Linked DNA regions of Homo sapiens: region 2 is linked to region 1. The links come from fine-mapping of genetic effects on gene expression. A gene starts in region 1. The other region holds a variant in brackets. All regions are shown on one strand. Distances are between the middles of the regions. Region 1 holds the start of NPPC (natriuretic peptide C). Region 2 has its middle 3.6 kb from the start of MIR1471.

Region 1 (5,368 bases):
TGCTCAGTGAGTTCAACTTTCCCAGGCCATGCCCCTGGGGCCTGGGGCAGAAGAAGCAGACTTCGTAAGGGAAAAGCAACAAAAAGGGACCTGAGTTCCAAATCTAGGCTCAGGAGGAAGAGTGGGCGTCCTCTGCAGCTCCCCAGGCAAGGAAAGCAAAGGGAGAGGGGAAACCTTCATCTCCAAGGCAGTTATGTGCTGATGGCACACCTCCCGGTGGCCCCTCCTGCCCAGGCCTCTGACTCTTACCCACCCTGCCTCCCAGGCCCCAGCTAAGCAGAAGCTGCTCCACAGCCTGCCCCCCGGGAAGCCTCCCTCTGCAGATGACCACCGCCCAGTGGTCAGGAGTGGCAGCTCACCAGATTTCCCTTCCAAAGATGGGAAGGTGAGTCCAGGGAATCGGCTCTGCCACAGTAGGTTGGGGGTGTCAGTTTTATTAATTTAGCCTCAAAGTTCAAACAGAGAGGAGACCTAGATAGTCAATCACCTGGACGCGAATGTGTCTAGGAACACAGAAGACAGGAAGGACCAACCTAAGGACGTTCAGACAGAAGGAAGTAGCCATGAACAGCGGAAGATTTCCTTAATAAGGGGCTTTAGAGGATGTACTGCTGGCCCCTGGAAACCAGCCCAGTGCTTGACTCTAGAGTCAGTCTGTGTGGCTCTGCCTGACTCTTTAAACAGGTATAAAGAAAGCAAGTGTCAGAGAAGTTCCAGATGGTAACATCCTTCTTTGCACAGCAGGCAAAAAGCAGAGGGAACTTTCACAGCCCACCTGGATACCCCTCCCTATACTGCTTTCTAGTTCCTCTTCCTTTCTCCTCAAATGAAAGAGTGGTGCCACTCTATGGGTGTTAGCACGGAGAGGAATTGGGGGGCTGCGTGGAGGTGGTGACTCAATTCACCAGAATCCACAGAAGGTGCCCTGTTGATGTCTGGATCTTCCTGGAGATCAGGAAACTTTGCTGCCCCAAACTCAGACCTCAGGTGTTAGCTGTTTCCTAAGCAAAGTGACCTGTGTAGTGGTTGCTCCAATGTTGTGAGTCAGGGTATGAGAGTGGGAAGGGGTAGCCTGAGAAAGGTGCCGACAGAGCAGACCATGATGCGGCCGCCTTAGCAGCTCTGGGACCAGGCTCACTACCACGGAGGGAAGAGGGAGGCTTGGAGGGAACCTGGTTCTCCAAGCCCCTCTTCACTCCAGTTGCCTTCCTGCCTCAGGCACAGCTTCCTCTCCCTGGAAAATCTCGTCTGGGCTACTGTCTCCCCAGAATCGCCTTCACGCCTGGGGACAGCCACTGCACTCCTGCGGCAACATTTGTTCTCTCTCCAGCCTGCGTCCTGCTCAGCAGCAGCCAGTCATAGATTCCTGCTCTTCAATCAATTCGGGGGATCTGGGCTCTCCGCCTCTGCGGCCCACACCGCAGTGCCCAAATGCCCACCACACTCCTTAGTGTCCAAGGGACCGAGAAGCCCAGTGCAAGGAGAGCAAGTTCGTGAGTGGTAGGGATATGTGGCCATGTCCCGAGAGCCACGGGGACCTCTCTACAGTCAAAAACGGGAAGTTGACCACCTGTCACGGCTGGCAGAGGCTGGACTGGGCCGCTGGCTAGGAAGCTCTCTCCCCAGCCTGTGAAAGTGCACAGGATACTGGAGCGGGCTTCCCCCAGCAGCGGATCCTCGCGTGGGTGCAGGCAAGGTCAGGTGCGCATTGTTCCCACAGAGGGAGTTCACCAGCGGAGTCAGACCCCGGGACGTTCTGTGTGGCCGAAACCGGCTGAACGTGAACCTAGAGCAGTAACTGGCGAGCATACGATGCCGCGGAGCACACGCATGAGCATGAATATCTTGGTTCCGCGCTCGCAGTCCCCTCGTTCCCGCCTTGCGCTCAAACACTCAGGCTGGCGACACCCCTGCACTCTCCAGTGTGGAAGACTTGCGCTCCCCCCTGCGGCCCAGGCGAACCCCGCTCTCCCTGCGCCTCCCACCCCAGTCCTCCAACCCCATCCTCTGCCTCCCCAACCTAACGACGTCGCTGTGGTCTGCGCTCCCGCCCTGACCGGCAGGTGAAAGGCGGAGCTGCAATGCCATCCCGCGGCTGTCAGGTGCCCAGGGAAGAGTTTGGCGACAAGCAGGGCTGCGTGGATTTCGGGCAGCGCCAACTTTATGCCTGTATGACTTTGGGCAAGTGACTTCATTCCTCTGAGCCTGTCTTTGCACCTGCAAAGAGGGCTACGTATCCCTTCCAGGTAGAGTGAGTGCGATGAGGACCTAGTGGGTGCACAGGGCACCAGGCGCACCGATGCTCGGCAGGCCAGGGCGCGCGCTCGCTGCAAATGGAGTTCCCCTGTGCGCTCAGCTCTGCAGCTCCAAGTGCAGCCTGGAGCGAGCCCGCCGAGCCGCGGGATCCCTCCGGGGTGGGATAAGGGAGGGGAGCCCCCGCGGCCCCCTCCCGGCCCTCGGCGCGGCCGCGTGCGTGGTGTCATTGGCCCGGGCGGCCCGGTGGGCGGGAGGATGACATCAGCGGCAGGTTGGATTATAAAGGCGCGAGCAGAGTCACGGGCTCAGAGCGCACCCAGCCGGCGCCGCGCAGCACTGGGACCCTGCTCGCCCTGCAGCCCAGCCAGCCTGCTCCGCATCCCCCTGCTGGTCTGCCCGCCGACCTGCGCGCCCTCGCTGCCGCCCGTGTGCGCCCCTCGACCCCAGCGGCACCATGCATCTCTCCCAGCTGCTGGCCTGCGCCCTGCTGCTCACGCTGCTCTCCCTCCGGCCCTCCGAAGCCAAGCCCGGGGCGCCGCCGAAGGTGGGTGCTGTCGTGGGGACGCCGAGCCTGGGAGAGGCGTGGGAGGCTGGGGGCTTGGAGAATGCGGCGCGCAGGACCCAGGAGAGAGGGAAGGCAGGCGGCTGTCTCCTCCGAGATGCGCGTGGGCGAGAGCCGGGGAGCCCTCGAAGCGCGGATTCGGGGGTCCACTTCTCCAGCCTCCGGAGAACATCGGCCCATGCGCAGCCCCCTACCCCAGTGTGGCCTGCCCGGCGAGCAGCAAAGGGAGGGCAGGGGGCTTCCGGAGGGAGCGGCGAAGGCGGCCGCGTGGCAGGTGGATGCGGGGCCAAGCTGGCCGGCATCGGTGGGGGCGGCTCTGGGCTTGGGAGGGACACCCCGCGCCGGCGGGCGCGTGGGGCTGGAGCATCAGAGTCCCCCGTGCTGCAGCCGCGTGTCCCTTCACCTGCCCGCTCTTTCCTCGGACAGGTCCCGCGAACCCCGCCGGCAGAGGAGCTGGCCGAGCCGCAGGCTGCGGGCGGCGGTCAGAAGAAGGGCGACAAGGCTCCCGGGGGCGGGGGCGCCAATCTCAAGGGCGACCGGTCGCGACTGCTCCGGGACCTGCGCGTGGACACCAAGTCGCGGGCAGCGTGGGCTCGCCTTCTGCAAGAGCACCCCAACGCGCGCAAATACAAAGGAGCCAACAAGAAGGGCTTGTCCAAGGGCTGCTTCGGCCTCAAGCTGGACCGAATCGGCTCCATGAGCGGCCTGGGATGTTAGTGCGGCGCCCCCTGGCGGCGGTGAGTACGGCCCACCCGACGCCCAGCCCCAGCCCGGCCCGGGACCGCCCGCCGCCCAGCCGGCCTTCGGAGGCGCGCGAGCCGCCTTTGCTCAAGTTGTGCTAGGCGTTTGCCAGCCGCCCCCTTTATTATCCCACTTTACAGACAAAGAAAGCGAAGGATAACGTGATCGGGGAACTTTGGCAAGGTCAGAAACGGCTCAGCCTGGTTGAACCCACCTGGCTTCTTCTGGAGAAGCAGAAACAGGCTTGGTGGTGTCTCACCCACCCCTGAACCGTAGCTGAACTAGCAGCACTGGCCCCTATTGGCCAGCTGGTGGGGGGATTGAGAGGAGATCATGGGTTTGTGGGAGCAGAGAAGGAAGGTTACACCCACAAGTCCAGGGGACATCGATCATCTGCTGGCCACCATGCCCCCTGTAGTGAGAGTAGCCCTCTGCTGGCACTGTCAGAGCGCCCTTCTGCCTGGGACACTCCGATTCCTGTCCCTTCTCTAAACCCAGGCAGTGGGCAAACTGGTCTGTCCAGGGTCCTGAGGCAGCTGCAGCCTGGTGGCTTCGGGGGTGAATCTCAGTGCTTGTGGCACTATTTCAGGGAATAGGAAAGACACTAAAGTAAATATTATTTGCCCCAGCCTCGAACTCAACACGTCCCAGAGTCCCTCACCAACCCTGTCCCGACCCAACCGGTGCTCTGGGCTCCGTTTCTGGTGTGGGGTCTCACCCCGCACTAGGGCTGGAAACCTCTGCCCTACCGCCACCCCCTGCCGGGTGCCGCGTGGTGGTAATTTACTGCTGCAGAGAGCCTCACCTCTCCTCTTTCCCTCCTCTCTATTCCTGCCGCCTGCCCGTGCCCACTGAATAACATCCCAGCCTCTGACATTGACAGTCATGTGCGTTAGGATCAGGCTTACCTGGCTTTCTCGCTTTCTTGCCTCCAGCTCAGCAGCTGCCACTGCCTGTCCCACACCTTGACTGTCCCATCCCAGGCTACGGGCAAGCTGCTGTCTCCTCCCCAGAAACCCTTGTCAGTGTCGGATCTTCTCCCGGAGGGAAACAAGAGCGCCTGTCCAGCACACTGTCTCTTTTTTACAGTACAGAACACTTTTTCACAGTTTGTGAACCCATTCACCTCTCCATATTGAACAGCTTAAGGGCGAAGTGCTGGCCTAAGGCACTCTAGGACCCACTGCACCCCGAACAGACTCGTGGAAATATTTGTCAATGACCAGAGAAACCAGCACACCCTGGCCCATGGCCACTCCCACCTGCCCGAGGTTTTAACCAGTGCCCTTCCTCTCTTTGCAGCCAGACCTCACTCGGCTGTGGGCCTCTCCCCAGTTCTGCAAAGGCTGTAGTTGTCTGTGATCTTGACTCTCCCCTGCACAGGGAGAAGAATGATTCTGACACTTGGGGACCAGCCTTCAGTAGCTACCCTTGGAATGCCTTTGCTCTCTTCTCTCCTGTCTAAACAACAAAGAGACGGAGTCTGAGGCCTCAAATTTTCAGTTTGATTTAAGCATCAAGTTCAAACTTTAGAACCTGAGCAAATGTTAGTGACTCTCCATTGGTTCGTACCTGGAATGCGCATCCCCACAGGGGCTTTGTTCTTGGGCCTGGATGTCTGTGGTCACCAAGTGATGGCCAAACGGGTGGTGAAAGATGCTGTGTAGGAGGAATCCACATTGTTAAGAATTCTCGACCCCTTTGATCAGGGGGGTTCAATAATCTCCTACCAGCTCTCTTAGCATAGATGAACACTTACCGTCGACACCTTCAACACCGGCTTACGCCCAACACCAGCTGTTTTATTAT
Region 2 (5,368 bases), 30 kb after region 1:
TGAGCTCCATTGCTTGTGTTTACGGCCATCTGGATTTCTTCCTCAGTGAATGACTTGTTCTTTGACCATTTTCTCTATTTAAAGTAGCTTTTTATATATTTGGCACATTTACTCCTTGTCTGTCATGTATTTTGCTATTATTTTGCCCAGATAATGTTATTTGCCATATTGAAGTTTTAGATCTTTATTTATATGTATATGTATATATGTATAAATTCAACTAGAACATTATTTTATCATTTAGCCATGCCTAATTTTCTGTTTTTCTTCTTTTGTAGAGACAGGGCCTCACTGTGTTGCCCAGGCTGGTCTCAAACAGTCCTCTCACCTTGGCCTCCCAAAATGCTGGGACTACAGGTATGAGCCACCATACATGGCCAGTCTAAGATTACATCGAGTTTTTTTGGTTTTTTTTGAGACGGAGTTACGCTCTTGTTGCCAGGCTGGAGTGCAACGGCGTGACCTTGGCTCACTGCAACCTCTGCCTCTTGGGTTCAAGAAATTCTCCTGTCTCAGCCTCCCTAGTAGCTGGGATTACAGGCGCCCGCCACCACGCCCACCTAATTTTTTGTATTTTTAGTAGAGACGGGGTTTCATTCTGTTGGCCAGACTGGTCTTGAACTCCTTGTGATACCCTACCTTGTTTTAACCTGATTGTCTCTCTTAGCTGAGAGAGCCAGACAGACTCCATTTTAGTTCCTTCACTTACAGCCCCTTTACCTCCCTCCCTTAAGGGCATAACTGGTGCAAGCTGACTCCATGCACATCCAGGAATGCACTTACTGAGAAGATATTGAGGCAAGCTGAACCAGCAGCTCCTGGGGACGCTCGGTGGATGGCATCTAGAGCCCCTGCCTTTATATCTTTGTGATAGTTTAAGCCCCCTGCACCTGGAACTGTTTATTTTTTCTGTAACTACTTCTGTAACCAATTAATTTTTTTAACTTTTTGCCTGTTCTGCTTCTGTAAAAATTGCTTCAGCTAAACTCCCCCTCCTCTAGTTAGACCACGGTATAAAAAGAAATCTAGCCCCTTCTTCGGGGCCGAGAGAATTTTGAGCGCTAGCCGTCTCTCAGTCGCCGGCAATAAAGGACTCCTGAATTAGTCTCAGAGTGTGGCGTTTCTCTACAACTCGCTCAGTTACAACATCCTGACCTTAGGCTATCCACCTGCCTTGGCCTCCCAAAGTGCTGGGATTACAGGCATGAGCCACCACGCCCAGCTAATTTTGTATTTTTAATAGAGACAGGGTTTTGCCATGTTGGCGAGGCTGGTCTCAAACTCCTGACCCCAAGTGATCCACCGGCCTCGACCTCCCAAATGCTGGGATTACAGGTGTGAGTCACTGAGTCCTGCCATGAATATGCATTTTTTTATTCTTATATGCATTAAAGGATCCTCAGGTAACGCTTATATACATCAAAGTTTGAGAAGCAGTGAAGATAATGATATATGTTTTTTATAACCTTTATCGTATTAATGCAGTAAATTACAGGACCACATTTTCCAAATTTTTAACGACTCTTACACTCCTGTGATAAAACTATGGCTTAAATATTGATGAATAGAATTTGCTAATATTTTATTTAGGATTTTTATGTCAATATTCAAAAGTAAGAAAGATTGATCTGGCTGGGAGGCCTGTAATCCCAGCACTTTGGGATGCCAATGTGGGCAGACCGCTTGGGCACAGGAGTTTGAGACCTGCCTGGGCAACAAAATGAGATCCTGTCTCAACAAAAAATAAAAAATTTAGCTAAGCATGGTTGTGCACCTGCAGTCCCAGCTATTCAGGAGGCTGAGGTGGGAGGATCAATTTAACCCATAAGGTTGAGGCTGCAGTGAGAGGTGATTACACCACTGCACTCCAGCCTGGGTGACAGAGCAAGACCCTGGCTCCAAAAAATAAAAAAAGAAGAAGAAAAGAGAAGAGGCTGGACACGGTGGCTCATGTCTGTAATCCCAGCACTTTGGGAAGCCGACATAGGTGGATCACCTGAGGTCAGGAGTTTGAGACCAGCCTGGCCAACATGGTGAAACCCTGTCTCTACTAAATACAAAAAATTAGCTGTGCCTGGTGGCAGGTGCCTGTAATCCCAGCTACCTGGGAGGCTGAGGCAGGAGACTTGCTTGAACCCAGGAGGTAGAGGTTGCAGTGAGCTGGGATCGCACCACTGCTCTCCAGCCTGGGCAACAAGAATGAGACTCTGTCTCAAAAAAAAGAAAAGAGATTGATCTGTGTAATTTTTTGTGCCAACTTGTCAGGTTTTGGTACCAGGGGTTATTTCTGCATATTCATTTCTAATTGTGTATACTTTTTCATGGTAAAACTTGTCAGGTTTCATATAATAGTATTGGTTGTTTTCAAGGAATAAGCTTCCTTTTCCCTTTTATGTTGACTTCCTATGTATCTTAAAGTCTATTTAAAAAAAAAAAACAATCTATTGGAACTGCTCCTTTTTTAACCACTTCGCACTGTTTCAACTATTGTAGCTCTATGAAATATTTTATTATTTGTTACCAGAAGATTTTGGTAAATCCACTAAACCTTCTAAAACGTCCTTTTTCTTTCCAACTTTCTTGCTCCCTACAGGCTTCTGGTAGAACGTCAGGAGAAAATGACATCACCTTGGAAAGGTCTCCCTTTGAGCTGCTCAGTTGACCAGCGGCTGCTTGCTGTGTAGGTATGCGGGCTCCAGTCTGACAGGCCTGAAACACACTTACCTTCGCAAATGTCTTTACCACATGCTAAGCGCGCCTGAAAAGGAGCCTGGGATTCTGGGATCAACGCAGCCAAGAACACTCTGTCCCATCTTCCATCTTAATAACGAAACGCTGACTGCCTGCTAAAAGATGCACAATTTATTTTAAATATATGAATAGGATGATTGTTTAAAGAGTTCCAGCTGGTTAAATTTAAGTTCCTGCAATAAAACTCTCCTCCGGCATTCTCTGGCTTCGGGCCTCGAAGGGCTACAGGCCCTCTGCTCTGAATTGT[G/A]AACTGCGATCTTGCGCGTTCAGGTTTTCCGGTAGTGGCTTTGCTGTTCTAAGTCAAGGCATCAGTGACTACCTTGACCTCAAGAGGACTTCTTCCACTATTTGAGCAACCTGCTTCTAGACCATTCTTGCCAGTTAGGAAAAGTTTTATTCAGTAAAATATTTTCAGTGAACCACTGGACAAAAACCAGGTGGCTGCTTTCCTTTGATCAGAGAAGTCCTCACTCCCTGTATGAGTCTGTTCTCACACTGCTATAAAGAAATACCTGAGACCAGATAACTTGAAAAGAGGTTTCATTGGCTCATGGTTCTGCAGGCTATACAGGAAGCATGAGGTTGGCATCTGCTCGGCTTCCAGGAGGCCTCAGGAAACCTACAATCATGGCAGAAGGTGAAGGGAGAGCGAACACCTCACACGGCCGGAGCAGAAGCGAGAGAGACAGCAGGGAGGTGCCACCCACTTTTAAATGAGCAGATCTCGCGAGAATGCACTCACTCTCACGAGAACAGCACCAAGAGGGAAATCCACCCCCATGATCCAACCACCTCCCACCAGGCCCCACCTCCAACACTGAGGATTATAATTCCACAGGAGATCTGGGAGGGACACAGATTCAAACCATATCTTTCCCCTTCTTCTTTGAATGTATTCGTTTCTTGACATCCACCTGCCAGGGGAGAATGGCCTTCAGGAGCTCGAAGCAGCCACAGGTGTCAAGTCGGGGCTTTCCCAGGCCTCCTTCAGCAGCTTCTCAGGTTCATTAACAAACATGGCCTGGCCTCCAGGTCAGTCTCCGTTAACGCCTCAAGGCTGCCTGGACTCTTCTCTGCCTCTGTTGCCCCTGCAAGGAAACATTCCCTCAGCTTCCAACATCCCCCTTTGTGCCAGGAGTCACCTGGGTCCTGTTAACACAAGGATGGACCAGGGAGGGTGCCCAGAGCTGACATGGGGTGACAAAGGGCACCAGGACTGCATGTCAGAGAGATCTGGGTAAGAAGCAGCTAGGTACCACATCCTACTTCTAACCCAGAGGGATGGAGCGGAGTAGGGCGAAGGCACCAGAGTGACAGAGAGGGTGTGAGAGTGAATCATGGGTGGGCCCCATTCCTCTCTGACAACCTGTGTTCAGAGAAGCGGGAGATGAATGGGACGGCTGGTTGTCTTCATGAAGTTTAGGAGTTAGGTGGAGAAAAACAGTCAGCAGCAGAACTTTACATATGGTTTAAGAATGGCTGCAATGGAAGATTTTTGTATTTGTTTTTGTTTTAGGTTTTTTATTTCTGTTTTTTTTTTTTTTTTTTTTTTTTTTTTGAGCCAGGATCTCACTCTGTCATCCAGGCTGGAGTGCAGTAGTGCCATCACGGCTCACTGCAGCTTCGACCTCCCAGGCTCAAGTGATCCTCCCGCCTCATCCTCCCGAGTAGCTGGGACTATGGGCATGTGCCACCACACCTGGCTAATTTTTTAATTATTATTTGTAGAGATAAGGTCTCATTATGTTGCCCACATTGGTCTCGAACTCCTGGGCTCGAGTCCTCCCACCTCAGCCTTCCAAAGCGTTGGGATTACAGACATGAGCCACTGCTCCTGGGATGGAAAATTTGTTAAGGGAGGAGGGGACAGGTGAGGAAAATTTGGTTGCAGTTCAAGTGAGAAGAGCCTTCACCGTAGAGCAAAGGAGAGTGGACTTAAGTATACAGGCAGTGGGGGAAAGGCGTGATGTTAGAAGTTTATTCGGACAGCAGCTTGTAGGATGTCTGGAGCCATGTACTCTGCTGTTCATGCTGTGATCACCCTGTTGAGCCTAAAAACATTGTATCAGCCAGGTTTCTGCTGAGTCCTACTGGATAACAAACTCCACAATCCCCGTGGCTTAGAGCAGCAATCATCTATATCGCACTCACAAATGTGCCTGCTGGCCAGAGCAGCTCTCCTTCAGGCCCTGGGTTGCATTTAGTTCTCTTCATGTGTCTCTCATTCTGAGGCCAGTGGCTACCTGGGGTATGTTCTTCCCATGGAGGAAAGCAGAAAGTGCAAGAGGGGTGGGTGGCAGCACTGACACTCTTTGGAACTGACATACTGTCACTCTGCCCACACTCCAATGGCCAAAGCATGTCGTATAGCCAAGCCCAACATCCATGGAGCAGAGAAATACACTCTGCCTACTCTAGTGGGAGACACTTTAGCGTCTTGCAGCAAAGGGCATGCACATAAGATTGGAAATAGATCGAAAGGCAACAGTTCATAAAATTCCTTTCAGCCATGATGCTTGGGGGAAGCAAAGACCCATAGAGAGATGCCAGCAGGGATGCTTGCACGCCCCAGACCAGGCAGCTCCAGGAAGTTCCTTTTCATACCTTTCTCTGGAAT

The links. PIP is the estimated chance that this variant, and not a neighbour inherited with it, causes the effect.
Region 2: its variant is fine-mapped to the expression of NPPC in esophagus muscle (GTEx, PIP above 0.99).

The regions. Positions count from the first base shown.
Region 1 is chr2:231,923,592-231,928,959 of GRCh38, reverse strand. NPPC (natriuretic peptide C) reads left to right here and starts at 2,564. Exons shown (of 3, transcript NM_024409.4): 1 at 2,564-2,800; 2 at 3,245-3,555. The coding sequence starts at 2,711. The coding sequence ends at 3,535. RefSeq lists an enhancer at 1,220-1,874 and silencers at 2,276-2,495, 3,451-3,500, 3,581-3,670.
Region 2 is chr2:231,893,262-231,898,629 of GRCh38, reverse strand. No RefSeq gene overlaps it. Among named protein-coding and RNA genes, the nearest start is that of MIR1471, 3.6 kb to the right of the region's middle. The variant G/A (reference allele first, on the strand shown) is at 2,999.